7 linked regions of the Homo sapiens genome follow. The protein of the gene in region 7 purifies or fractionates together with the protein of the main gene of each other region. This does not show direct contact. Each region holds a gene or a part of one and is shown on either strand. Other genes may lie near its edges. The genes, in order: GAN, STEAP4, PLG, ZNF185, NECAP2, GDA and GOT1.

The links.
Region 1: the proteins of GOT1 (region 7) and GAN purify together in Homo sapiens (affinity purification with mass spectrometry; one large-scale study listed by BioGRID and IntAct). This does not show direct contact.
Region 2: the proteins of GOT1 (region 7) and STEAP4 purify together in Homo sapiens (affinity purification with mass spectrometry; one large-scale study listed by BioGRID and IntAct). This does not show direct contact.
Region 3: the proteins of GOT1 (region 7) and PLG purify together in Homo sapiens (affinity purification with mass spectrometry; one large-scale study listed by BioGRID and IntAct). This does not show direct contact.
Region 4: the proteins of GOT1 (region 7) and ZNF185 purify together in Homo sapiens (affinity purification with mass spectrometry; one large-scale study listed by BioGRID and IntAct). This does not show direct contact.
Region 5: the proteins of GOT1 (region 7) and NECAP2 purify together in Homo sapiens (affinity purification with mass spectrometry; one large-scale study listed by BioGRID and IntAct). This does not show direct contact.
Region 6: the proteins of GOT1 (region 7) and GDA purify together in Homo sapiens (affinity purification with mass spectrometry; one large-scale study listed by BioGRID and IntAct). This does not show direct contact.

The regions. Positions count from the first base shown.
Region 1 is NC_000016.10:81,356,106-81,360,185, reverse strand, and holds part of GAN (gigaxonin), read right to left. Parts: intron 3,402-4,080; coding exon 3,184-3,401; intron 2,377-3,183; coding exon 2,255-2,376; intron 1-2,254. UniProt on the Homo sapiens protein: Probable cytoskeletal component that directly or indirectly plays an important role in neurofilament architecture.
Region 2 is NC_000007.14:88,279,115-88,283,194, forward strand, and holds part of STEAP4 (metalloreductase STEAP4), read right to left. Parts: intron 4,055-4,080; coding exon 3,527-4,054; intron 1,966-3,526; coding exon 1,801-1,965; intron 515-1,800; coding exon 284-514; 3' UTR 1-283.
Region 3 is NC_000006.12:160,704,962-160,709,041, reverse strand, and holds part of PLG (plasminogen isoform 1 precursor), read right to left. Parts: intron 2,636-4,080; coding exon 2,500-2,635; intron 1,343-2,499; coding exon 1,236-1,342; intron 1-1,235. UniProt on the Homo sapiens protein: Plasmin dissolves the fibrin of blood clots and acts as a proteolytic factor in a variety of other processes including embryonic development, tissue remodeling, tumor invasion, and inflammation. In ovulation, weakens the walls of the Graafian follicle.
Region 4 is NC_000023.11:152,914,812-152,918,566, forward strand, and holds part of ZNF185 (zinc finger protein 185), read left to right. Parts: coding exon 1-22; intron 23-326; coding exon 327-392; intron 393-2,319; coding exon 2,320-2,358; intron 2,359-2,473; coding exon 2,474-2,551; intron 2,552-3,031; exon of another isoform or gene 3,032-3,253; coding exon 3,254-3,343; intron 3,344-3,755. UniProt on the Homo sapiens protein: May be involved in the regulation of cellular proliferation and/or differentiation.
Region 5 is NC_000001.11:16,446,836-16,450,915, reverse strand, and holds part of NECAP2 (adaptin ear-binding coat-associated protein 2), read right to left. Parts: intron 3,047-4,080; coding exon 2,942-3,046; intron 2,857-2,941; coding exon 2,775-2,856; intron 1,824-2,774; coding exon 1,715-1,823; intron 792-1,714; coding exon of another isoform or gene 696-791; exon of another isoform or gene 675-695; intron 1-674. UniProt on the Homo sapiens protein: Involved in endocytosis.
Region 6 is NC_000009.12:72,246,810-72,250,889, reverse strand, and holds part of GDA (guanine deaminase), read right to left. Parts: intron 3,485-4,080; coding exon 3,457-3,484; intron 2,619-3,456; coding exon 2,548-2,618; 3' UTR 141-2,547; coding exon of another isoform or gene 52-140; 3' UTR 1-51. UniProt on the Homo sapiens protein: Catalyzes the hydrolytic deamination of guanine, producing xanthine and ammonia.
Region 7 is NC_000010.11:99,409,687-99,413,766, reverse strand, and holds part of GOT1 (aspartate aminotransferase, cytoplasmic), read left to right. Parts: intron 1-4,080. UniProt on the Homo sapiens protein: Biosynthesis of L-glutamate from L-aspartate or L-cysteine. Important regulator of levels of glutamate, the major excitatory neurotransmitter of the vertebrate central nervous system. Acts as a scavenger of glutamate in brain neuroprotection.

The sequences.
Region 1 (4,080 bases), on a different chromosome or scaffold from region 7:
GTCTGAGGAGTTAAGAAGGAAGAACGAAGAAAGTGGCAAATCTAAATGAACACTATCTACCTACCTACCTGCCTGTCTATCAATCATCTATCTACCTATCTGTCTGTCCATCCATCTATCCATCCATCCATCCATCCATCCATCCATCCATCCATCCATCCATCCATCCAACATATATCAAAAAAAGACATATTGTGTATATAGTAGCTACCCCTTATCTGAAGTTTTGGTTTCTGTGGTTTTATCACCCATGGTCAACTGCAGTCCGAAAATAGGTGAGTTCAGTAAAGTAAGATATTTTGAGAGAGACCACATTCACATAACTATTACAGTATATTGTTATCGTCGTTTTATTATCAGTTATTGTCGTTAATCTTTTACTGTGCTGAACTTAAACTTTATCATGGGTATGGATGTATAGTAAAAACACACAGTATGTACAGGGTTCAGCACTATCTGTGGTCTCAGACAACCACTCGGGGGTCTTGGAATGCATCCCTCATTGATAAGGGGGATCTACTGTACATATTTATTAGTGATAATGCATTTTAAAACTGTAAGAGTATGGAAAATGGAAAATGAAGAAAAACTCTCCTGAAGAGAACACAGGTACTGACTAACTTTGGACTTTGCTAACTTAATACAGGCTGTAATTTCTAAGGTAATCTTCCTAAAGGACTATTAACAAGAATGTAAGTCCCAAACTGGTAGAGAAGAAAAATTGAATGACAAAAAAACAGTCAAAATCAATTTTTAAAAAGGCAAAAAAAAAAAAAAAAACAATGCAGCCTGGACAAACGGAAGGACCTCCTCAATCACTCACTTCTGTTTCCATCAATTCCACTGTACACAGTCGCTCCTTCCATTGCTGGGTTTCTGAAACACCAATCCCTCTAGCAAACTTTCAAATATTAGTCATATAGGAGCCTTTGTGACAGACGTGTATGTGTGAAAATTAGGAATATGTGTATATATTTTGGGGGAAATGTAAGGGAGCTAATTCTGAGAAGATGCAACAGGGAAACTAGACCTACATCCTGCAGGCTATACTACTCTGTCCAGCTCTTCACTACTGACAATAACTAATAATTTTGGGACTCATAAAATGACTCCACTTCTATACTATGGTAGAGCCTTGGCCATTTGTATGATGCACTGTGGTACAGTATAGCTTTAAAAATATTATAGCCTGGGCAACATTGCAAGATCCCATCTCTAAAAAGAAAAATAAAATAAAAAATAAAATTTTAAAGATAATGTTGCTGGGCAAGCAAACACAATTAAATAAGGACTGCAGGAGGGCTGCTGACCACAATTAGGATGACATGAGATGACACTTATCAGGTGGACAAGGGAGCAGGACCACGGCGAAAAGACAGGCAGCCAGCAAAGGCAATGCCTCAATGGCTATCTTTTCTATCAGCTCCTTAAGGGAGAGCTTTGGATAAAGTAGAGCAGTTTTCAAACTTGTAAAGGTCAAGTAAAGCATTTTCCATACTAAATAACTTTAAGCCATTGCCTATATAAGTAGCATTTCCTAAAGTCTCATAACTTCTCTTTTTTTTTCTTTTTTTTTTGAGACAGGGTCTCACTCTGTCACCCAGGCTGGAATGCAGTGGTGTGATCTTGGCTCACAGCAGTCTCGATCTCCTGGGCTCAAGAGATTCTCCCACCTCAGCCTCCCAAGTAGCTGGGACCACAAGTGCATGCCACTATGCCTGGCTAATTTTTTTGATTTTTAGTAAAGACAGTTTCTCTCCTACATTGTCCAGGCTGGTCTTGAACTCCTAGGCTCCTCTCACTTTAGCCTCCTAAACTGCGGGGATTACAGGTGTGAGCCACCACACTCGGCCTTATATAACATATTTTATATAATTACATATTGTAATTCTAAGCTGCATGAATTTCAAAGATGGGACTACCATGGTGCAAAGAAACGCTGTGTTCCAGGTGTGGCCCTACAGCTACTTAGTGGTAAGCATCACTGAAGTTTGCTCTCCTGACATTAAGTCATCAAGTAACTGCTTCTCCAGTAGTTCTTAAAAGCAGCTATGTGCTGAAGATACAGAGATAATAAGGACTGACAGAAAATACGGTTTTCCTAACCACGGTCTCAGAAGCTAGAACTACACTAAAAATGTCATGTAGAGATAATAAAATTGTATCTTTAAAAGGCTCTGAGTCATTCTGTAAAACCTTGAGATTACACATTACTTGATCTGCTGTTTAAGGAAAATTTGCCACAGAACGGTACCTGCTGAGAGAACTCCATGGTTAATTCTCGGCATGCTTAAAGGGGCCAGTTCGATCCAAAGCTGCCTGTTAGGGTCATAGAGAGGGCACATGCATCGCATCGCTGCTGTGGGTTTCCGTGAACTAAGGAAGTAAATAAGTGATCAGTAGTTAATGTGCTTCATACAGTTCTTTTTATAAGTAGCCATCACTAGTTTTAGTTTACTAAAGAATATTTAAAACATTTTTTAAAAACCCTTGTGGAAGTCAGTGTGACGATTCCTCAGGGATCTAGAACTAGGAATGCCATTTGACCCAGCCATCCCATTACTGGGTATATACCCAAAGGACTATAAATCATGCTGCTATAAAGACACATGCACACGTATGTTTATTGCGGCACTATTCACAATAGCAAAGACTTGGAACCAACCCAAATGTCCAACATTGATAGACTGGATTAAGAAAATGTAGCACATATACACCATGGAATACTATGCAGCCATAAAAAAGGATGAGTTCATGTCCTTTGTAGGGACATGGATGAAATTGGAAATCATCATTCTCAGTAAACTATCGCAAGAACAAAAAACCAAACACCGCATATTCTCACTCATAGGTGGGAACTGAACAATGAGAACACATGGACACAGGAAGGGGAACATCACACTCTGGGGACTGTTGCGGGGTGGAGGGAGAGGGGAGGGATAGCTTTAGGAAATATATCTAATGCTAAATGATGAGTTAATGGGTGCAGCACACCAGCATGGCACATGTATACATATGTAACTAACCTGCACATTGTGCACATGTACCCTAAAACTTAAAGTATAAAAAAAAAAATCAAATGTAATTATGTTTTAGATACTGAAAAGCATTATGAATTCTTGTTTACATGGAACTACCTCTTCCCATACACCACTTTTCAAACAAGTCCCACCTCATACTTACACTCTCTCTTCTCCACCAACAGTCACGATGCACTCAGAGTAGCCCCGGGGTTTGAAGTTGGCCAGCATCGCCTCCCCTTGCTGCGGCTGGCTGAGCGGTATATTGCTACACTCTTTGACAATTTCTCGTACTAATGGTTCATTCAGCATCTGTTCCCGTAAATAACTGGAGTCCAACCCTGAAACCCACAGAGCTGACATAACATCCTTCATGTGGACCTGCAGAAGAGGGAAGAAAGATGGGGCGAAAACAATGGAAAATGCAACACATCATTTTTAGAATCTACATTTTCCACCTCATGGAAAACAAACTGTTAACACTCAGGTTATTACCAGGCAAGTGAGACACACTCGTGCTGCTTGAATATCTTCTCCTGGCCCTAACTGTCTACTTCCCAGAGTCTTGATAAGTAAAAGTTTAATTTTTAAAAATCATCAGTTTATTTGAGGTATCACTGTAAAAGTTTCAAGCAGCTTCCTTTACACCTTAAAGGATTCCCATTTCAATAGGAAAAGACAGGAAAAGAACCAGCTATAATTTGCTTTATTTCACACATTTGGATGTGCCATGAGTTAAATCATGTTTATACAAATATTATATACAGTAATAGCTCAATACAATATGGTAAACTTAGACATCAACATTAATAATACAAGAAAAATATACAAAAGCCAAAGTTTAAAAAAAAACCTGAGTACTATATAATCATTTTTGCAGTAATTACTGTTCAAAAATATCTAAGACGACTAATATGAATTTACACTTTTACTGCTCAATCACTAAATTTGAACTGACGAAAGTATTTTATAAATGTAAAATAAAACTGTGAGTTTTAAAAATCAACTGTCTTTACAGCATGAAGTTTAAACTGACCAAAGGACAAAGAACTGCCTCGTT
Region 2 (4,080 bases), on a different chromosome or scaffold from region 7:
TGTGAAACCACAAGGCTAGTCTCAATCTCAGCTCCATGGCCTCTGGGAAAATAAGAGTCAGGGACCTGCACTGATTCTTCACTAACCTGAGATAAAATGGTGTTCTCTTCCAGTATGTCAGTCAATTTCTCAAAGACAAGCAATGTTTCCCTCAGTCACGGTGTAAGAAAAAAACTTTCCTAACTGTACCCATCATTCTTCTTTAAACATTCAAAACCATAGTTCAGAAATCCAGCTAAATTGAACTTTGTTTTAAATATTGATTTTCCATTCAATGCTTTTTCTAGTGTTTTGAGTTCCTTTCCCAGCCCTGGCGGATCCTTGTAAGGGTGTTGTCTACACATGGCATGATTAGGACAAACTTGATCACCAGCACAGTGCAAGGAATGATAAGCCCTAACACGTAGGCTGCAGGAAGATACCATCTGAGATTTGAAGGGCTGAGGAATCTCTTCCCACCGTACACCAGGGTGTGGGCTGTACACAAGATCAGGGTCAAATAACCCAGTTTGGACTATAAACAAGAAACAAAAATATGTAAGTTAACATTATTTACATCTTAAAGTGAAACACTCTAAGCCAGTGACAGATATTTGTCAACAACCACAAACATTTGAGACCTATAATGTTTAGGACACTTTGCCAAGTACTGAAAAAAAGCACTAACCCTTCTTCAGGATGGTAAATACTTCATTTAAAACAAGATTATTTCTTACAAATGACATAGTAGCTTCACCTTAACCTAGCTGGATGGAAAAGTTTCCCAGGAGTAAACTCTTCCAAGTTAGAATAAATAATGTAGCTTGTCTTGGTTCCCAAAGGTGAAACTCTTTTATTTATCATCTTTTCTAGAGGTCAGAGATGAATATGACACAGTATGACCTCAAGAAGCACCATCTTAGTATATGTTACTGACTAAAACCAGATCCTAGCTCATTTCTATCACAATAAAGAGCAATAGCCAATCTTGTTTCAGCCTACATTTTAAAGCTTATTGTTTATTTCTGCCTTAATACCTTGAACAAAACTGCTAATGAGAACATGTTGACTGCATTTGGTCCCTGGGAGAAATTGCAAGACTTAAGATTCCAATAGTTCTATAAAATTCTAACCTAATTTTAAAGACTAATGCTCTTTTCTATTATACTCATAATAAGCATGCATCAGAATCATCTTGAAGGCTCATTAAATTTCTGGGCCACAGGTTCAGAGTTTCTGATTCAGTAGGCCTGGGCATGGCCTGGGGCTTTGTGTATCTAACAAGTTTCCAGGTGATGCAGATGCTGCTGGTCCTGGTGCCATATTTTGAGGACCACTGGTCTACAAGAATGTGTAGTTACTAACTGCCTTTAAAGAGGGGTTGGTTGGTGCTTGACATGTGGAAGAAAACAATTTTCCCTCTTACAGAAGAGCATTAAGTCTTCCGGTGTGATGACATCTATCAAATCTTGCTGTGAAGATTTTAAACTTTATCTCAACATCTGGTTTTCCATATCTGTATGTCCATGTTGTAAGGTTAATTTTTTAGATGGTGAAATTTTGTCTTGGGGTTTCTTTTTGCCTTGTACCTAGTACATCTCCACACATAAATTGTAATAGTTCTTAGTATTTTTCACCCTATAGTCTTAGCTGTAGATATGGAGGCAGTCAGGAATCTTGGCGAGTATTAAGAAATCAAATCATTATGGATTCTGCCTTTTGTACCTGGGTTCAACATTTTCTAATTTGAATTTTTAAATATGATTGCTAGGGAAGTGATGGAGCAAAATGAAAAGTTAGGAATGAACTTGAAGTTCTTACCTGGACAAATCGGAACTCTCTCCAGTTGACTGCATTGCTAACAGATGGCAAAGAAGTGATTCCCAAGAGTACAAACAGAAAAAACCCAAGTATTCCCAAAGCCACATATGAATCACTGAGCCAGGCTGAGGAGGTGCTAAATGGATTCTCCTTCTTGAGTATTGCCTAAGAAAAATTATAAGCAATTACAAAACTACATTTTTACAAACTACATTTTACAAACTGCCCACACTTTGACAGTGGGCACAAATTATTTGCTCAAAGCAAATTGTATGGCATTTCTTAAAAATTATTTTAAAATAACTTTAGTGAAAAATACACTTAGAAATTATATTTTTTGGCAAAAAAAGTAATTGGTTCTGTTTGGACTTGATTCTAGGAGTTGTGTAGAAAGTTTCGATTTTCCCTGTAAATTCTAAAAGACAGTAAACACTCACTTAAACCTTCATTACCATCTGCATTTTGTTCCCCAAGCAAAACTTGATGTTCTCAAACAATTACATCAGAATTCTGTTTTTCTGCTTTATATGTGGATTACTCACACTCTCAAAGTGGGTTCTTTCATGTTTATTATACATGATAATAAATACATCATAATATAATACATCAGTCTTGCACCACAAGTTGAGAGGAATCAGACACTTGTAGTGTGACTCTTACCCAGGAAACTTACATGTATTTGTTGGGAAAATAATGTAGAGAAACCCATAGAAGCATCATTAATGACTAACTAATAATTTTTGAGACTGAAGTAAGATCTATCAAAACTAGCTATTTCTAAACTAGAACTGACTTATAGCACTTCCTCTGAGAATGTCTTAAAACTCCTTCAGCTGATTCTCACTGAATCTTTTGATTATGCATAAGACAATATTTGATATTTGCTCAGAATTATTTGGTTTTCTAGTTATTGAGGTCAACTTCCCCCAAGTCAAACATTAAGGGAATTATAAGCGCTCTTTTGTGAATTTGTTTGCTTTAGTGTGGCACATATTTGGTTAGCCCTCTTACTTAAAAGATGGTTGGTTTTGACTTCCAAAAGGAAGTAACATGCCTAAGAATAGAAGCTTGAAAACACACTAGTTAACATTTGACTGCCAACCAAAGGAATTCAAGTAGGTGTCTTTAGGTTTCTTGAGCCATGAAATCTGTCAGTTTGCCAATATCTCTATGAGCCCTGGGAATACAGATCTGGACCCAAGCGAACCTGGAAAGTATCATTTTTTTTCTTTCTTTTTTTTTTTTTCTTTTTGAGATGGAGTCTTGCTCTGTCACCCAGGCTGGAGTGCAGTGGCACGATCTCGGCTCACTGCAACCTCTGCCTCCTGGGTTCAAGCGATTCTCCTGCCTCAGCCTCCTGGGTAGCTGGGATTAGAGGTACCCGCCACCATGCCCAGCTAATTTTTGTATTTTTAGTAGAGATGGGGTTTCACCATGTTGGCCAGGATGGTCTTGATCTCTTGACCACATGATTCACCTGCCTCGGAATCCCAAAGTGCTGGGATTATGGGAGTGAGCCACCGCCCCCGGCAAACTTTTATTCTTAATAGTTGTATGAGATCTAAACTGGATTCATTTTAAAAAACTGACATGACATTTCTAATTCTAGTTACTTTAAAAAAGAAGATGCTTAGAAGAGTGACTTTCTATAATTATGAAATGGAATATGATGTAGCAATAGTCTCTGATTTCAGGAGCAGAAGAAAATATATAAGAAGAGATTTACCTGGGTAACGGTTAAGTTTCCCAATCTCCATCGTACATAATATCGAATAGGAATCACAAGTGTGTAGAGGACATGAAGGAAGGCAAATCCCAGAGCTACCAAGCCAAGCTGCTTTCGGCAAAGCATCCAGTGGTCAAGCCAGTCTGGGAATCGACGGTATTTTGTGCCTCGGTACAGTTGTAGAATGGCAGCAATAACACCAGGGAGGTAAACCAAAGCAAGCAGTGTAAGTGCTGTTATTGGAAAGATACGATTTGGAATGGAAATAGCCATACGAAATGTATTATCTTTCTTTTCATAAACATAAGGGTAGATTACGTCTCTTATAACACAATAGAAAAACAAGAAGACACACAGCACAGCAGACAAATAGAAGGGGAACCTCCACATTGGAAATAGCTGCAGGGGGTACTTTTCAATTTCTTTGGCTGCCATGAGTGATCCTTGATCCATTGGAGTAAGTCCAAGATTACGAACAATATCCATCACTCTTTGCTTGGCTTTGCTGTCATTTCCACACACAAACACCTAGTTTAAAAACAGTTAATTAATTC
Region 3 (4,080 bases), on a different chromosome or scaffold from region 7:
ATTTACAAATGACATATTTAAATGTTAGCATTTTGTAGAGAGAATCAGGAGAATCAGGGTTTTTTTTTTTTAAAATCTGGTACAATTAGGTGATCCTATTTAGTTTACCGTTTGCTTGCTACTTGTAAGAACTAATAACTTCACCAGATAAAGTTTAGATTTAATCTGCACTTTAATCTCAAGAATTCGAGATAAATAGTGGTAAGGAAGGAAGTACAATGCGTACAGCTAATGAAACCCAGGAAGATGAGTCAATGCATAGAAATAATTCCAACCCAAATAAATACTATTTAAAATGCTACTTAGAGTTTTGCCGTAATACTAGACACAATATGGCAAATCATCCTCAAGAATACAAGAACTAAGGTGTTTCCAGTCCTCTTTAACACCTGGGATGCAGAATGTTTGGAGAGCTAAATTGTTACTATTAACAGTCTTAATACCTGGCTACCAACACAGTAGAGGAAACAGTTTTTAAAGTGTCATGCATCCCTTCAAATATTTATACTTGATGGGATATGCTTAATGGGAGCATACTTGATGGGATATACTTGATGGGAAATGCTTAATGAAACATTTGCACATCTAAAAAGGCATGCAATTTCTATTGAAATCCTGTCTGCCTCTTATTCTAAGCAGTGGGACTATTGACCCACATTTTAAAATAAACTATAGAAAAGGAACTGTAACTTTTACACATTTTTAAAAGACAACATTTCAGAAATCTGAGAAAAATATAGACCATGTCCCCCAAAATGTGAAAAATTTAAGAGTAAAAATAAGATTTGTGTCCCAATCTAAATGTTTCTGAGGATTAAAACACCTCAGTATTTCTGTTTTACAAGGCTTCATCCAGATGTTAGGGCCCAAGGACCATGGTCACCCTGCAGAATAAGAAGCCAAGACCAAAAGGAATGCTTAGACTTCCCATCTCCTTGTTAAATATAAAATAATATTTTAAAAATCTTATTTTCAGGGTCATAGAGGTAGAAGTGATTTTGTAAATCTAATCCTTTCATCTTTTGAACAAAAAAAATTAAATCTAAGAGGTGAAGTAATACACTCAAGCTGACATGGTTAGTTAGTAATCAAATCCTGTCCTAACTCAGAATTCAGTTTTATAACACGATAGTGCCTTCCTCCTCTGGTCTTATAAATTAAAGATAGAATAGAGAAAGAGGAAGAGTGGGAGGATGGGGAGGACAGTAGGAGGAGGAGGAAGAAAATGTACTCACCTTTCTTTTCAAATAAAACTACATCTCTCATCCTAATGATTATGGAGGACTTCCTGTTTTCAGCCATTATCACACATTGTTGCTCTTTACTGTGATATTGGAATGCCCTGCAGAACGAAGCAGGAAATCCAATAAGTATTTTTCTTTATTTAAAGAAAACAAATGTTTATTAATAAGTGAGACATGCTAAAGATCATTGAATATCTTGAGGGACCAGAGAGCTCAGAATTGCTGCCTCTTTCAGTTATTTGGGCATGGCATCGATGAAGTACTGAACAAAATACACCAACGTGGCAGCAAATCTTATCTGCCCTTACCTTCCCTCCCTCATAATTTTCCCTTTCTTCCTGTTTCAACTGCTTTACTTCTTCTTCACTCATCTTCTTAATTTTTGTTTTTGGGTTGGAAAGAAGCAACTCTGGTTGCTTTGAACCCATTCGCCAAGATAGTCCGTCTCCATGACCTCCCAACTCTGATCAGTTCCCCTGAACCTCTGCTCCACATTCCACCCCACCCTGGCCCCTGACCCCTCCCATCTCCATCCCGTGGTCCTGCTATGGGTGCTCAGTCTGGATTCCATAGCTACCTTCCCAAGCCCGTCACCTACACAAAGTCTCTGCTTTAGTCAACTTCATCTCTTAATGGTCCCCCTCAGAAGGTGCAGGGCCGCATCTTCCCCTGCCTTCCTGGTGCTTGTCAAGAGCTCTCTCAACTCCAAACCCAGCTCAGTTCCCACCTCCTCCCTGAGCCTTCTCTAGCTGCCTCAACCTTAGGCACTGTTCTTTCTTCTGGATCTGGGTAGAGCATGCATTGATTATGCCTGTACCTCACTTGGGCTGTCTTTTTTTTTTTTTTAACATTATATCCAGTTTCTTTGACTACACCTTAAATACTAAAGGGCAGGCACTGGATCTTGTAGCTATAAGTCATTGCTCAGATCTATCTAGGACACTTTCATTCACCTGATCCTCAACAAACATTTACTGATGATGATGTTGAAAACTGGAGCTCAGAACAATAACTGCTAATGTTTGTGTCCGGTGTAAAAACAAATAACTTCCTTTGAGGGTATTTTTCTAACAAAGACTCCAATAAACCTTAACAAGAAGCTGTTAGTATGGCTTCACATACTGTGAGCAAATATAGTTCCAAACTCTGGCTCCATAAATTTCTCTTTCCTCTTAAATCATTAATAAATTTGTGAGTAAATTACTTGCCATCTGAATTACAGATTCCTGCGTAGGTGCAACGACAATGGAAATACCTGCAGGTGAATTCTTCGTCCTCCTCACATTTTGCTGCACATTCTTCTATACTTCCTGCTCCCAGCTGCTTCTTAGTGACACTGAACAGTGAAGCCCCCTGGGTATTCACATAGTCATCCAGAGGCTCTCCTTGACCTAGAGGTGGGAGATCCAAGTGGAATAAATGGTCAGTAAATCAATGTCAATGTCTAATTGTCATGACTTCCTTTTAATCTATTTGGTTAGCATTAACCAAATAAAACTTTCTGTTTACTGGAAGTAGAATGGGTAGCTATGAATCAAAATGTTTAGTTAAGAACACACAGTCGGGCATTTGGACATAAATAAAGATGGCAACTAAAGACACTGGGGACTACCAGAGAAGGGAGAGAGGGAGCAAGGCAAGGGCTGAAAAACTACCTATTTAGTAGGTATTTAGCTCACTACCTGGGTGATGGGATCATTTGTACCCCAAAGCTCAGTGTCACGCAATTTAGTTATGTAACACACCTGCACATGTACCCCTGACTCTAAAAGTTGAAATTATAAAACAAAGAAAAACAGTTTCATTAGCAGATTGCAAGATAGTAAAAGATTAACTGGATTGACAAACAGGTTAGAACTATGGAACCACTACTATGTTACCATATTAGTGGATATAAATCCTTAAACAAGAACAAATTTTATGTTTGCTATTGATTGTGCCATGTCATGAGAGAAGAGTAAGGCACCATCAGTGGCAGTTGTGTTACCAAGATTGATGTTGATTTGTTCATCCCTGGGTAGAAATGGAACTTGGAGGCCATTGTTTGATTTCCTACAATATGCGCTTTGGTTCTGGCACTGTCACTTGAACCGGTGGGAAGCATCCTCTGAATGGTCCCTCCTTGAGAAACATAAATTTTGGTGCATAGATGATGGTGGAAATAAACAAGAACTGAACTAAATTATGTTGCCACCTTGGACAAAAATTGGGCAAAACACTGGAGGGTAAGAAGCTCCCCAACAAAGAAGGCCATTTTTGTACTGGGCTTATGACAGTCACACAACACTACTAATTGGGGAGAAGTCAGTTTTTCCAAGGTGTTGACAGGTATCTGGATTTCGGAGGAAATTGTAAAAAAGCAGGACCTGGGACAAATACTGGTCTTGGTTTTTCTTTGAGATCAAATCTGAGACAACGAATCTGTCCGAAAGCTGCTTTCTGCCTGGTCGTGGCAGAGGGTGGCCAAGGGGGCCTCAGCTGTGCTCCCACCACAAGGCTACAGGGTGTCCCCTTGTCCTGAGGCTCTTCCAGACATCTGGCTGAGCTTTGGTAGCTCTATTCCAAGCCTGGAGATGCCAGCTCCGTCCTTGGCACAGAATGCTAGTGATTTGCACAAGGGTGAGAGGCCAAAAGAGGCTAATAAAATGAAGACAGGCAAGCTCCATGGAATTAGACAACAGGACAACCTTGACCACTTTGAGGGGCGTGGTGGGGGCCGCAGGCAGAGGGGGTGGGTTACAGAGTGACTAGGAGAGCAGTGGAGGCTGCAGCAGGAGACAAGCCTGGCTCTGAAGACAGCGAGCCCTCCAGGGAACATGCGGTCAGGGGAGGTTCT
Region 4 (3,755 bases), on a different chromosome or scaffold from region 7:
ATGAATCGGAGGGTCGCACCATGTAAGGCAAGGAGGCGGGGAGGGACCGCAGCAACGTGGGGGCGCGCAATCCGTGGGGGACCGACCATACCTGGGGATGCGAAGGGGCTTCCACCATTCAGAGCTCCGCCAGGCCATGTGGAGGGCAGAGCGTGGGAAAGGCTATCCAGCAATGTCACAGGGTGGGAGAGCCCCTGGGTGCCTGGGAAGGAGAATGTGTGGCAGAAATGGCAGGACTTGCTGGGCAGCCTCTAGGATGGAGGCCACAGGATGGCAGGTGACAGGGAGTCTCGGAGCCAATCCTTCAGGATGCCTCTTTCCCCCAGAGAGCTGCCCTCAGGCCGGAGTCGCGCCACATCCTTTTCATCAGCTGGGGAGGTTCCGAAGCCTAGGTAAGAGGTGGTGCTCAGGTGGCTGGTGGGTCAGCCCCAGGGACTCTCCTGCAGCTTGGGGCCAGCCCTCAACAGGGAGGGGTGGGCAGTCCACAGGGGACAGGGATGCAGCCCCAGCCAAGGGTCTGCAATGAGTAATTTGAAATCTGCAGGAAGGAGGGGCTTCTCCACTGCACCTTCCTTTTGGGAAGGGGAGTGTAGGAGTCACTTGGTCCAGGCCCTTGGCCTGGCTGTGTGGCTGTGGGGCAGCTGACTTCCCTGCTGGGCCTCCGTGGCTCCAGCTGTTAACTGGGATTGAAATTGTCTTTAAGAAGAAGACGACCTCCCACCCATTCCCTGCAGGGAGTGATACTGCCTCTGAGATGCTTTGGGCAGCTTCCAGAGTCACAGTGACTCACTCCTGCAGGTCACCCTGACTGCTTGAGTGTACTTGGGACTCAGCATGCCTGTAGAGAGGCACGAGTTTGCTCTGACTGTCTCCCAAGTTTACCGTGACATATTTTGTCAGCTGACCAAGGAGAACTGGCTTCTCTCTCTTTTGGGGGCTTTTCCATAACAGTGTCTAGGGGGGCTCTGAAGCGTGGGCACACCCTGCTGGCCTCTGGAGGAACTGCTCCTGACAGAGAAAGGGAACTGAAATTCAGGCTCGCTCCTTGCTCCAAACAGCCGGCAGGCGGCTTCTCAGGGGGTGGTAGAGGCAGTGGCGGCCTCTGGAAGGGAGGGCCTCAAGTTTACAGCCAGCACACAGGGCTACCTTTAGTAACTACGGTCTCTCTGTCACCCCTCGATGACTCAGCGCCCACTACCTGCCAGGTCCCATGCTGGGCACAGAGGATGCAGGAGTGGTCAAGACAAAGGCCCTGTCTTTGGGCAACTGACGTCCCAGCAGGGGACTCAGGCAGGACCCTAGTAAACAGTTCAATACAAAAGCGAGAACCCCCAAGTGTGCCTGCAACATGGCCACCTCTGGGAGGCTGTCCCCTGTTAGAGATGGAGATTGTGGGGTTGGAGACTACCGGAGGCTCTGTGTTGCCCTTGACCCAAACCCCGATGCTCCAGCCCACATCCCCTCCACTGCAGGACAGAAGGGTCTACCCTGACCCCTTGACTCCTCCCCTAACTCTGAGGAGGACTCTTTGCAGGGGCCCCTAACTCCTGCCCGGAGGCCAGAACTTCCAGGCTGACCACCCCTGGCTGTCAGCTCCCTGCCCGCTCGTCTTGGCTGCCCCCTGAGTTATCTGAGCCCCCTCAGTTGCTGCCAAGCAGGAGGTCCCAAGCACCCAGAGCCTAATGTTTCCCAGCCGCTGAACAAGGCCTGGCCGCGCCCTCTCGTCTCAAACTTCCACCAAGACTTGGGGTGTGGGCATGCAAGGAGCTGGAGCAAAGAGGGCCCCGAGGGACAGGAAGGGGGACAGCTGGCTTCGGCTGGCTGCTGCCTGGGCTCTCCCCTTCAAGCCCTCATGCACCTTCCTGGTGGAGGCTGTTGAGGGAGATCAGGTCAGACCCCGGGCTGAGGGGAAGCCTCTGGCTCTGACTGGGGAGCCTCCAGCTTGCACTGGTTCAGCCCCAAGCACAGAGGATGGGAGGGCTGTCAGCTGAGAGCAGTGCTCCGTCGGCGCAGCACTGGGAACTGGCTGGCCAAGGAGAAGCTGGACTTTGGAGAGGCCATCAAGCTGCCTTCCTAGGCACCTGCCATGAGGAGTCACCTGGGGCACTTTTCCTGGGGGAGCATGAGGGAAATAGGCAGAGCATAGCGGGCACCTGATCAGGGGCACAGGGGGCTGGCACCCCTCGTTTCTGCTGTACTGGGACACCTGGAGCACTTGCCAGCCAATCTTATTTGCTATCGTTAAGGGCAGGATAAAGTAGGATGACCTCAGCCCTCCAGCAAGCCTCGCTTCACTCCACCCCTTCTTCTCTTCGGCAGGCCTCCGAGCACAAGGGCTCCCACTGGCTACATCATCCGGTAAGTGACCGCAGGACTCTGCCGGCCTTCCTGTGCCCACTCACGCCAAGCCCTGACTTCTTACCCCTCCAGTCCCTCCAGGGAGCTCACCGGCATCTCCTGGGCTCTCTTTCAGGGGAGTGTTCACCAAGCCCATAGACAGCTCTTCCCAGCCCCAGCAGCAGTTCCCCAAGGCCAACGGGACTCCAAAAAGGTATGTCCATGGGGTGTTGGCCAGTCGGCCAGTGGGGAGGTGTGAGGGCCTGGTCTGGGCTCCTGGCAGAGACAGTGCTCTGCCTATCAGGACTGTGGGGCCTTGGAGGTGCCAGCTTTCATCCTGGGTAGGGCAGGACCCTGGAGAGCAGGGTGGGGTGACCAGAGGAGATGGGCTGGGGTGGGACTGGCAGTCCCAAGTGGATGTGTGGGTCTCTGGGAGGTCCTGGGCCACTAACAGTGTCCTTGTCCTGGGGTCAGTCCTGACTAGGCCTGGCTAATGGGACAGAGAGGTGCAGGAGTTTGGGAGGGGCTGGGTGTAGAGTCCCCCTAGCCTGGCAGTGGGCACCCTTGACTTGACTTGCTGATGGCATTGAGAAGGCTGAAGTTGCATGCAATTCAAGCACCTTGGCATCAGGCATTGCCTGGGACTCCGTCAGACTGGAAAGGCCAAGGGGACCCGGAAACAGGAAGCAAAGACACAGGCAAGAGCCCGCTGGGCTGTTCCCTGAAGCTCGGTGGGGTTTGCCTACACAGCTGCTCTGAGTGGCGCAGTTCCGGGTGTCTGTCAGGGCCAAAAGCAAAGAGGAAAGGCTCCCAGGCAGCTCCTGGTCCACCTCTCATGTGTCCACTGGGCTGTGTGGCCAAATCTGGAGGCAGGAGGGAGCCTGCAGGTAGACACATGGAACCTTCTCCTCTCTAGTGCTGCCAGTCTGGTGAGAACAGCTAACGCTGGTCCTCCCCGCCCCTCCTCCTCTGGCTACAAGATGACCACTGAGGATTACAAGAAGCTGTGAGTATGCAACGCCAGGCTCAGCGTGGTTCCCTCCTCCAAGGAACAAGTCCAAACTCTGGGTCCACTGAAGGCAGCTGACTACTTGCCACCGAGCACAGCCCGGGAAGTCCCGCCTGCCTGACACTCCCTGCCAGTTGCAGCTGTGGCCTGGAGCCCACCAGAGGGTAACAAGCCCCAGAAAACTGGATGGCTGTGCACATTGCACGTCTGATCCGAGGCAGAGCGGAGACCGCAGGAAGCTTGTAGGAGGGGCCCCACGGATCTGGGGAAAGGGTCATGGGTCGTGAGGCTGCTGCTGGCTGGCTGTGCTTCCTGGGCTTGGCCCTGCACCCGGCCGAGCCTCAGGTGCTCTGCCTGGCTGCACTGGGCTGGGGGCCTGGGGATCCTCAGGGTGCTGCTGTCAGTCTGA
Region 5 (4,080 bases), on a different chromosome or scaffold from region 7:
CAATGAATGGCTCGATCTCAGCTCACTGCAACCTCCACCTCCCAGGTTCAAGCCAATTCTCCTGCCTCAGCCCCCGGAGTAGCTGGGATTACAGCCATGGACCACCATGCCCGGCTAATTTTGTATTTTTAGTAGAGACAGGGTTTGTCCATGTTGGTCAGGCTGGTCTCGGACTCCCGACCTCAGGTGATCCGCCCACCTCAGCCTCCCAAAGTGCTGGGATTACAGGCGTGAGCCACCACTCCCAGCCTATAGATTAGATTTTTTAAATTTCACAGAGTTCTGCATTTATGATTTGTACACTTTTTTACATGCACATTATACTTCAAGAAAATGCTTTAAAAAAAAAACTGAGCACCAAGCATGAGCCAGAAAGCAGCACAAGTTACACAGATGAAGATAATGTGTTCCCTACTTGTAAGGAAAGCAGCAGCTTAATAAAATCGTAAGTCCAGCCCTGAAGTCAAAAGACCTCAAAGACCTCAGTGTGAGCACAGCTGTGCCAGTTATTTCTAGCTCTGTGACCCTGGGCAAGTCCCCAACCCTCCCTAAGCCTCCATTTCCTCATCTCATGGAGGAAAGGGAGAGGATGTTTAATTCACATGAGAAATGCCTAAAAAAAAAAAACAACAAAACAAAACAAAAAACAAAACAAAACAAAAAAAAACCACTACCTGGCCCTCAGCTGATGCTCATTAAATGTTAGTTTCCTCCAAGCGAGAGAAAGAATCACATCCCAACCAGTCCACTGGATTGGACTTGCATTTCTCTCTTAAGGGCCAGCTGGCCAACTTCAAGGATCCCAAATCATCACCAGCACGAAGCAGAAAAGAGGAGAAAGAGTAAGTAAAGAGGAAAAGCATTATTTTAGAGTTACAAAGCTTCTTGAAAAAACAAATCCATCTCAACACAGTATTCCTAGCAAAAACAAAAACCAATCCACTTGGTCCTTGGGTCCCCGCAATCATGACTCTGACCTCATCTCCCCTCTCCACCCTTGCAGCCAGGTAAAGGCCAACTTTAGGCAACCCAGCCCAGCCCAGCCCAGCCCAACCTGTTCCTATGAACAGGAGCTGACGGGAGGGAAGCCAGAGGCAGAGCAGCTCAGAACGAAGACACAGGAGCCAGGACAACACCATCAGCACAAGCTGCCCAGGACTCCCAGCGCCCACCTCAACGCCCTCCTGCCAGAACTCTCCCAAATCTTCCTTATTCAAGACACAGCCTGGGATGAGCACACAGGTCCCTCCTGATGCACTCTAATAGCTAGGACAGAAACACCACCTCTGGCAGCAAATGACTGATGCTCCTTCTCAGTTCAGAGGCTTTGCACCTGCTGTTCCTCTGTGTGAACCACTCTTTGATCACTCTTCCCTTGCCTACAGGTCCCTTCTTCCAGGAAGCCTTCCTTGGTTCCCACAACTATGGGCTGCACACCCTTCCTCTAGGAGCCCACGGCACCCAGGGCATCCCTTAGTCATGGAACCTTTCCTGCCATGTTGTTATCACATTTTTACCTGCCTGTCTCAGCTCAACTCTGAGCTCCATGAGAACAGAGGTCTCTTGTTCACCCCGATGCAGGACCTGGCACAAGGCAGATGCTCACTAAACATCTGCTGAACTGAAGGAGCTGAACTGTAAGAAGAGCAATGGGCTCTGGGGCTGGGTGGCCACAAGTATCACGTCACCACAGCCAAGCAAGGGTAGAACTCACTGCGATGTTGAGCTTGATGGTCTGGCCCTCCTTGAAGCCCAGGTCCAGTTTAGGGCCTTGGTCTGGGTTCTGGGCTTGTTTTGCAAATTCACACTGCTGTTTCACCCACCTGGGGAGAGAACATGAGGAAAAAGGTGAGGAAGGAAGAGACCAGCTGCCCTGCAATCACTGGCTCACTTCACTACTGCCTGCTATCAGTCCAGGCTGAGCCTCGTAGTGAGACGGGGTGCTGGAAAGAGTGCAGGCTTGGGAGTGAGGCCTGAATTCAAATCCCAATCTGACACTTAAGTAGCGGCATGCACATTGGTTTCCTCATCAGCAAAATATGCCCACAATTCTATAGGTTTTCAAGATGGCTACGAATGCAGCGAGATCACTTACGTAGAGGGTCCTAACACTATCTCTAGGACACGTGAGAGCCTGCCCTTCCCTCTACAGTATATGACATGAGAACTAAGATGCGGTCTCTACACACCCTCAAACACTCAGAAGGCAGACGGGGGGACAAGACAGATACCCAAAAGTAGAGGGCAACACAAAAGTCCCCCACCCTCCATACCACACCACCCAGCAGCACCGGTAAGGGAAGAGCCAGAGGCGCCCATGTGAGTGGCCGGGCACAGCCCACTCACTGGCAGCCTGAGTTCGAGCCCTGCAGATGGTGGAGGAGGACTTCCTGCCCTGTCTCTTAGCTTCAGAAAAGGACATCAGGGCATCTGCTGGGTGCCCTGGGAATCCAAGCGCCATTGATTACATGGAGGAGCAGGCCCAGAAAGGCCACAGGAGCCTGATGAGGACTCTGGCTGCTCAGGGGACTGGTAAGGGGAGACAGGTGGCAGGCCCGAAGGCTGGGATGGTAGAGATGAGCCTCAGGTAAAAGAGAAGGCTTTACAGCAGAGATGAACATTGGCAGAGAAGAGAGGTGGCTTGTCCTGGGTTCTCCTGAGTCTCTGCTGCCAGACAAATCACACACAAACACTTGGGTATCCTAACCTGGGAGATCATTCTGTCCAGGGAAAGAAGGGAGGGGCATGAGCGTGTGTCTCCCAGACCCACTCACTTGAAATGGTCCTGCAATGCAACATTGAAGTCAAAGGCATCACCTCGGTCCCCGAAGCCAATTCCAATAAACGCCCGTCGCCCTGGGGAACAACACATGATCAACCCACCTTCCAAAGGCAGAGAAAACCTTTCCCAAGAGGAGGAAGCACCAGGACCCATGCCTACCATTTCCATCTTCGATGCGGATCACGAAGTACCTGCTGGAATCCGTCACACTCTCCACAGCTGTGCCAGGAAACTGATCCACCGGGGCCTGAGCAAAGAGCTCCCCTGAAAGCACAGGTTAGGCTGAGCGCTGAGCCCTGAGCCCCCTTCCAGCCAAGGTTTTCTACCACACTACTGGGCCTTTTGCCCGCAAGGCATCTCTAACCAGCTGAGACAGATCGGCAAACCTTACTGTGGGATTCAAATCGAATCCATTCTTGCTAAAGGGAAGACACAGAAAATATAATCAAGGAAAGGCTTAAGTCAGAGAGCTTACAGGTCAAATTTAGCTCACAGTTTGGTATTCTGCCTGGCCTCTCTTAAAATTAAGCTTTATTAATGCTGAGCCTCCAAGCCCACCTGAGAATAAGTTGGAGCTGCTAGCCCATCCATTCCATCTGCTTTACCCACTTATATTACCTGAACCCTGAGTGTCCTAGAACAGGTGAACCCTGGCCTAGGTAATCACACCTGCTGAAGAGGCTAGTACCTGAGGCAGGACTATAAGAGGGGCCAGTGAGCCCCGAGGAAAGAAGGGAGGAAGTTTTCATACCCATAGGGAATCTGAAGCAGGCTGATTTAATTCAATCTGAGACAGGGCAAGCGTGACTAGCTTTAAAAGCCCTTGTGAAACACATCACCTTGTCAACTACAGCACTCGACAGTGCGGCACAACATAAAATTTCCACAAGCATTTATGACTGGCATCAGTTTTTCCCATGTGCTGACGTCTGTTGTTGCTTTTAGTATTTTTTGTTTTGTTTTTTAGAAACAGGGTCATGGAGTGGGTATGGTCCCAGCACTTTGGGAGGCTGAAGTGGGGTGCGTTGCTTGAGCCCAGGAATTTGATTTATACCTTTTTTTTTTTTTTTTCCTGAGATGGAGTCTCCCTCTGTCACCCAGGCTGGAGTGCAGCGGCGCAATCTCGGCTCACTGCAACCTCCGCCTCCCAGGTTCAAGTGATTCTCCTGCCTCAGCCTCCCAAGTAGCTGGGATTACAGGCATGCACCACCACGCCCCACTAATTTTTGTATTTTTAGTAGAGACAGTGTTTCACCATGTTGGCCAGGCTGGTCTTGAATGCCTGACCTCAGGTGATC
Region 6 (4,080 bases), on a different chromosome or scaffold from region 7:
AAATATTTTGTGAATTTATGATAATCGATACTTTTGAATTGTTTTTACCTTTCAAAGTGTATTCCGTTGAAAATACCATGGAACATTAAGGAAATGGTGGAGGATGGGGTGAGGAGGCTGGTAAGTGAATTGTTTCTTTCCTGTCAGAGAGCAAGATATTAAAACAAAAAGTGACAAATAAGATTGGCTTGGAAAAGTGCCTCTCCACAATTCAGAAAGTCAACCTACATTAGGCAAAGGCAACATTTCAAAGTGCAGAAAATCTGGCCCCAGGTATAGATAATGCCTGTGGTACAGAAAAAAAAGCATACATAACATTCAGGAACACCGCACTTGGAGAAATAAAACACATAAGTTATAAGTGATGTGGAGAGATCAAAGTACATATAAATATTTCAACACATCCTATTTTTACTAGGAAAGATATTCAGGTCTTAACACACTATCAGAGCTAAATTTAAATGTTTAACAGGATGGTTGTATACGGCCATTCCTACTGCTTCTGATGCTACACTTATTTATATTTACTGCACATGAGTCCTAAGTCTACATGAAAACTGATGTTCAACATCAAAATGTACACCCTTAAAGAAGGTAAAAGTGTAGGATCTTGCAAATGCTAGAAGCAGCTACTGCCTGTAAGTGAATCTTACACATCTCATCTAAATTCCTAAGCCTGCTCATTTGGTTAGACACCATGTAATCAAGTTCCTTTGGCAGGGGTTGAGTGATAAAGCTGAAGATTTTTGCTAGCCCCGTAGAGAAATGGGGAGAAATTTGGCAAGGCATCTTTGACGTGGCTCAGGAATTAGAAATATTGGAAATACAGACTAAGACTGGAAATTGGGTTTACTAAGATACTTATCTCACAAAACAAACTCTGTTGTTTATTAAAAAAATAAAACTAACTTTTGTTCCCTCTTTAGGTGTCATGTATACATAATCAAATCTAAAAGTATTTCTATTAGGGAAAAAACTGGGCCAATTACTGCTAAATTAGCTAAGTATGTGAAAATAAAATTTATACTACAGGAGGGGGAACTGTGTTTTTTTGTTCTGTAAATACGGAGTTAGCTATATTACATAAAGTTTCTACTATAAGGTAATATTAAAGAGTCACCCCTAAGCTCTAGGAATGAGTGTTATAATATATTAAGAAAGTCTATTCCTTTTCCTTGCTCATTTATAGTATTTGTAATTAAATAAGAAAAATATAGAATTTAAATAACATTCACACCAATACTTAAAGATTTATCATAAGGTCATAATTTGGTTTTAATTCTAGGTTATGGAAGCATAAAAATAGTCTTTGCTTTGTAATGTTCCTAGATGTCTAGTAAGAATTAAGTCCTATTAACATAAATATTAAGTAGGACATTATGTACTCTTCATTATCCTAAAATTTTAATATCCTAAACATTATAAGGAGTTAAACAGAAAACTGGATAAAATTAGAAAATAGAGTGCTTTCAATACACAGGGTTTAAAGATTTTTAACAATATTTCTTTAACAGGATTTGTCCTTCATTTTAAAGTTCTAGCAGACTGATATCTGAGTATGGAATTTCCAGAAACTACAACATATTGTTTGGGTGGAATAGGCCATGGCAATGGAACCTGTCCTGTTAGTATTGGCGGCTCCTGGATGCCAGCATTTGCCCCAGTTCACGAAGACTCCAGTCTACATAAATTCCATAAAGCATGGAATTTGTTTCTCTTCTAATAAAATGGAAGCAATAACATCTCACAGTTATAAGTTGATTTTAAAGTACACAAAAATACAACTATTTATGCCATGGAGTTACATGAATAATATTCCTAAGAGACTTTAAATCTTTAATACCCAACTTCTGTCAAACACTTTGAAGCACAAAACTATATTATGAAAGCATGTGGCATTCAATTTCTGACATTCATCGCCAAAGAAGGCAAAGCACAACACTAACACATCTCTGAAATGCAAATTCCATTAAGTGCAAATTTCTAAAACACAAGGTCAACCTAGAAACACGTTTTAAATTTCAACAAGTTCTCTTTTTAAATTAGTATGCTCAGTATATAATTTTCAAACACAATCTGAAGTGATTTTCTAACGTTTGTTCTCAGTCTAACTTTTGCTCCCTCATAAAAATATACTCTCATGGGTCCATTTTCAGTCTTCTAATTTTTGCAATTATTAGCTCAAAATATCTAACCTTTTAGGAACATCTTTTCTTTCCACATTTTCAAATATGAAAAAGGCTTTGCTTAAGTCTTACCGTAGGAACACCACCAGTAATAGCATTCCCTTCTGTTTGAGCTTAAAGTAAGTCTGAGCAGCTCCAAAGGGAGATATTTTCATGAAATTTATGAACCCTCTCAACCAGAGTTGAGAATTAGTGCAACTTCCTTCGAACTATTTGTCAAGTGAATACTGTAACTAGACACAGAAAGGGATAGTCATCCCAAGAACAAGGTACTATTTTTTGACTTTCTAACTCCACCTGGGCACAAGGGAGATGCAGAACCACGCTAATCCCAGGAGAACTTTGTAGACGCCCGAGGGTCTTACACTGAGCTGGAAAACGGAACCACCTGCTTTCCGCCCACATAAACCTCTTCAATATTTCGATCATCTCCTGAAAGAAAAATCAAGGAATCATGTATAAAATCCTTTTGTGTCAATAAGTATCTTCCTTGCCATTGGGAGAGATTTTTTTTAAAGATACTTCTAGGAGAGGAAATACTAAAAGCTGCTTTCCCCCAACCCTCAGATTGTTTATAATCTGAACAGGAAGATATGACTAGTAGAAAATGCCATAGCTAATTTGATGATTAGGGTCTGAATTCTGCACCAGAGGCAGAAATCACATAAAGTTGAATCAACCCCCTATAGCTGTCCTTTCTCAGCTGAAGTGGTTGGTTTACATTTTGCCCCCACTGAGAAAGAAATACTACTCTTTACGCTCCAGAATCAGCTCCACAAGAAGTAACACATGCATCTTTCCATCTTGAGTTCACTCAGTCCTGGGCTCACTGAACAGAATGGGAGGCAGTGTAGAATATTCTGCATTACTGTTTCTCTCTCTCTCAGTGAATGGAATTGAATGTGAGTACATCACCAGCACGTGTGGTGAGACTCTACTATACATTTGTCACAAAAACATGGCAGGGCAGTATGTCAGATACCGAATGAGTACAAGAGGGTTGAACATGAAGATCTCTTCACCTTTGGCCTTCCATTCCTCAGCTTAGAATTTATGACTAGAGGGAGTCATGTGCATTTCAAATAGAACCTTTAAATAATGTGCCACCAATGGGCTTGATGCTTCAGACTGTTAAAAAAATAATGAATCAAAGCAAATTATCATCCACAGAGTTTAATATATGGTAGGATAAATACATAGAGCCATACCCAAGAAAAAGACAGGGAAAGGTTCTATTTAATATTTAGCATAGAGACATGCATCTACCTACCTAGATAGAGGAACTTCTGGATAACAGCCTAAAATGGAAAATAAAAGTAATAAGAAAGACTCATTTGTGCATTTAGAAAAGTAAATTCACAGCTGATAGTGGTTGACAAAGCCCAGAAATACGAATTTGTTTCTCAATGGCAAAATCTACTTCTATTAATTAAAAAAGAAGTGGCTATGTGCTTTATAAAAACCTCCCAGAACAAAAAATAACCCACTGGCAATTAACAGAAGTTTACCTATTGTGTGAAAGTTCTGGGTATGTGAATTTTGAGTCATCAGAGAAAAGGTATTATATAAATTAAAGAAATTAATTTAGTAAAATAATTCAAATATTTCAAGACGGGTATGATGTAAGACAAGCTCATCCAACCTGCCTTATTTTGTTGTTGTTGTTCTGTTTTGTTATGTTTTGTTTTAGGCTTTTAGCAGCCTGAAGCCATGGTTTTTAGTTTCTGTCTCTACTGATAAGCAGAAAAGAGGGATGAGGGAGGGGGCTTTACTGGCACAACCTGAAACAGAAACTAAGAACTCCCTTGGACACCCCTGATATAAGAAAAATCACTAGGACTATTCCCTAGAGCCCTATTCTTAGAAATTTACTCTAATCAGAGAGTAAAAGAAT
Region 7 (4,080 bases):
TTCTGGCTTGTAGAGTTTCTGCTGAGAGATCAGCTGTTAGTGTGACGGGCTTCCCTTTGTGGGTAACCCGACCTTTCTTTCTGGCTGCCTTTAACATTTTTTCCTTCATTTCAACTTTGGTGAATCTGACAATTATGTGTCTTGGAGTTGCTGTTTTTGAGGAGTATCTTCATGGCATTCTCTGTATTTCCTGAATTTGAATGTTGGCCTGCCTTGCTAGGTTGGGGAACTTCTCCTGGATAATATCCTGCAGAGTGTTTTCCAACTTGGTTCCATTCTCCCCGTCACTTTCAGGTACACCAATCAGATGTAGATTTGGTCTTTTCACATAGTCGCATATTTCTTGGAGGCTTTGTTCGTTTCTTTTTATTCTTTTTTCTCTAAACTTCTCTTCTCACTTCATTTCATTCATTTGATCTTCCATCACTGATACCCTTTCTTCCAGTTGATCGAATCGGCTACTGAAGCTTGTGCATTCGTCATGTAGTTCTCGTGCCATGGTTTTCAGCTCCATCAGGTCCTTTAAGTACTTCTCTGCATTGGTTATTCTAGTTAGCCATTCGTCTAATCTTTTTTCAAGGTTTTTAACTTCTTTGCGATGGGTTCGAACTTCCTCCTTTAGCTCAGAGAAGTTTGATCTTCTGAAGCCTTCTTCTCTCAACTCGTCAAAGTCATTCTCCATCCAGCTTTGTTCCGTTGCTGGTGAGGAGCTGCATTCCTTTGTAGGAGGAGAGGCACTCTGATTTTTAGAATTTTCAGTTTTTCTGCTCTGTTTTTTCCCCATCTTTGTGGTTTTATCTACCTTTGGTCTCTGATGATGTACAGATGGGTTTTTGGTGTGGATGTCCTTTCTGTTTGTTAGTTATCCTTTTAACAGTCAGGACCCTCAGCTGCAGATCTGTTGGAGTTTGCTGGCGGTCCACTCCAGACCTTGTTTGCCTGGGTATCAGCAGCGGAGGCTGCAGAACGGGGAATATTGGTGAACAGCAAATGTTGCTGCCTGATCGTTCCTCTGGAAGTTTCGTCTCAGAGGGGTACCCGGCCATGTGAGGTATCAGTCTGCCCCTACTGGGGGGTGCCTCCCAGTTAGGCTACTCAGGGGTCAGGGACCCACTTGAGGAGGCAGGCTGTCCGTTCTTAGATCTGAAACTCCGTGCTGAGAGAACCACTACTCTCTTCAAAGCTGTCAGACAGGGACATTTAAGTCTGCAGAGGTTTCTGCTGCCTTTTGTTCGAGCTCTGAGCCTTTCTTCTGCTTGGAAGGCCTCACCATTCCCAGGCTGCTGTCTTAGTTCACTAATAGCCTCTTAATTTACCTTCCTGCCTCTAGTCTCTTCCCTGTTTTAGTACATTCTGCATGCTGCAGCTAGGATGACCTTCCTTGGCAAAACAAGCTACTCATGTCACCTGTTCCCACTCCCCACCCCCACCGCCCATAGCTCCCCCATTGCCTGTAGGGTAAAATCCAGACTTTGAGCTTGGCATGCAGTGAAAGTAGGTGACAGGTGACAGTCTTCATCCTGTTCTTACAGTTGCTGATTTCCCCTCACTCCACTAGAGGTCCTGACATTCTAAGAGTCTTGCTGTTCTCTAGACCTACTGGGCCCTGTCAAGACTAAGAACCTTTGCCTGGCCCTTCTCTCCATTTGGAATGCCCTCCCTTATTGCTCTAGCTGTCCAGTCCCCACCTCTAAGTCCTTCAAGAGCTGATCAAGGGTCACTTCCACACTGAATCCTTAGGTATTTTAGGCAGAGCTTGTTGTTTAAGCTCTCTGAGTTATCACAGGACTTTGTTCACAGCTTGGGAATAACAGTACTTAACTGTTCTTACTATAATGGATAATTTTATAAGTCTTCATCTCCCACAAGGCCCTAACTTTCCCCAGGAGAGTGATCATTGCTTATTTACCTTGCAGATTTTCAGCATTTGGCTCCTATCCGGGTACCTCAGGTTCCAAAGGTTTGGATTCATTCATTCCTTTAGTCATCAGATGCCCACTACTAGAGCCAGGCACTGTTCTAGATGCTGGAGCACAGCAGTGACTCAAACACACAGAATCCCCTGCCCTTGCATTCAGTTTCGGGGAGAGGAACAGACTCTAAATGTAATCTTTTTGACTATATCAGTAAGAAAATGATGTAGTATACTAAAGATGATAAATGCTATAAAAATGGAGCAGGAGGTGGCATGTTAGGAATTCTAGGAGTGGATACAGTTTTAACTAGGGTGGTTATGATAGAAATAGAAATGACATTTGAGCCAAAACTTAAAGACGAGACATAAATGAAAGAATGAGTGAACAAGTAAACCAACAGTAATTGTTTCTTCCCTTAGATTTTTCTTCTCCAGATTCAACATTTCCAGATCCTTTACCCATTTTGAGGAGACCTATTTTCTAGACTCCTCACTGCCTTGTATTACTTTTCCACTTTCAGATCTTAGGATCCAGACAGAAATGTCGATTTTTCATCTCTGGCATAGTGCTGTTTCAGCTTTGAGATTACTGAGCATTGTAGGAAGGAGGGCTCATGGGTCATAACTCATTGTCACATCATGACATCCCACTCTCGCTTTGATTGCCTCTAGGCGACTTGGGGCTTCTGCTGTGGCTCAGATCTTTTCACCACTGTCTTCTTTCTTCATCTAGTTCAGCACATGCTTATGTAGTACCATGTGCCAGATGCCGTGAGAGATGCTGGGGGCACCCAGATGAATGCAGCATGGCTCTGGCCACAGGCAGCTCCTGGTTGCTCTCCTATTCCTCATGGTGAAGTCATAGTATCGGCAAATTGTTATCTCAGACAAGGGTTCTAGAATCCAGCAATCTTATGCTGACATGTCCAACAGAGGCCTGCTCTATCTAGCTTCATACCAAGTCTTCCTGGATTTCCCTTGTTCTGGATACTCTTGTTTACCCAGGTCCAGTTGCCTGGCTCCTTGAGAAGTCTGTACTTACTTCCTTTGATGTTATGATTTTCCTTTATAACAAGTACAGGACATTCTTAGGCTGTAGGACAATTTGCCAAAAATCAGTTCACAGAATGACCACATTGCTATATTATTGATTCACCAAAAACTTGTTTCTGTTAGTTGCTGATGTTTAGAGCAACTTGTGTTTCACTGAAGCCATCCAGTATTTAATAGATTTTTAGGGAGTGATAACTTCTTGAGAATTTGATATTTCAAGTGTCATATATGTCATGAATGTCAAGGATTAGTTAATGTGGAGTGGGTTTATCTCTTCTAAGCACATTTTTAATGTATTCTACTGATTTTTAAAAAAATGAATTTGCTTTCTGTAGTGGGAGAGAAAGGGTGGAGTGAAAAGTTGAGAACAGGAAATGAAAAATTATGCCTGGGAATGTTTCCACTGGTATCTATGCATCTATCGTGTTTCCAGAAGTTAAAACCATGTTCAAGGGAGGTCTTGCTCATTTGCTTAGGAAGTATTAGCACTCTAGAGTGGCTTAGGTATCTGCAATGTGAAGTCATGTATGAAACTGACATTCAACTTAGCTGGATGACAAATCCATAAAAAATAAATGCACATTTGTGTTATATCATCTTGGTAGCAATTTGCATAAAGAATTCAGGTAAACCACAATGTGGGGGCAAAACTTTTAAAGTAATAGCAAGGGATGAGTGCTCAGTAAGGATCACTGTAAATAACAGAGTAGTTAGCACACCAAATCTGACACACACTGAGCATTTTCACCCCAGTGCACTGCCTTTGCCCCTCTCTGTAATGTACAGCTATGTTTAGTTCTGCATCCCCTTGAATGTCAACTTTGCTTATGTTTCACATTTCAGATAGTATTCTTTCACAGATGCTCACACCTATAAATACAAACAGAACATTGGTGCATAATAGTGCCGATAATTGGTAACATTACCTTGTTGTTGGCTTAAATGGGATTTCTACTAAACGATTCACTGTTTTTAAGCTGACTTATGGGTTAAATGAATTTTTTTCAGTCATTTTCAGGAAGTATCCACTGTTTCCTGTTTTACTAAGCATTTATCTCAGGAATAGCCAAGCTTTTCTTACCTGTTGTGATGATCATTTGGGTTTTCTCTAT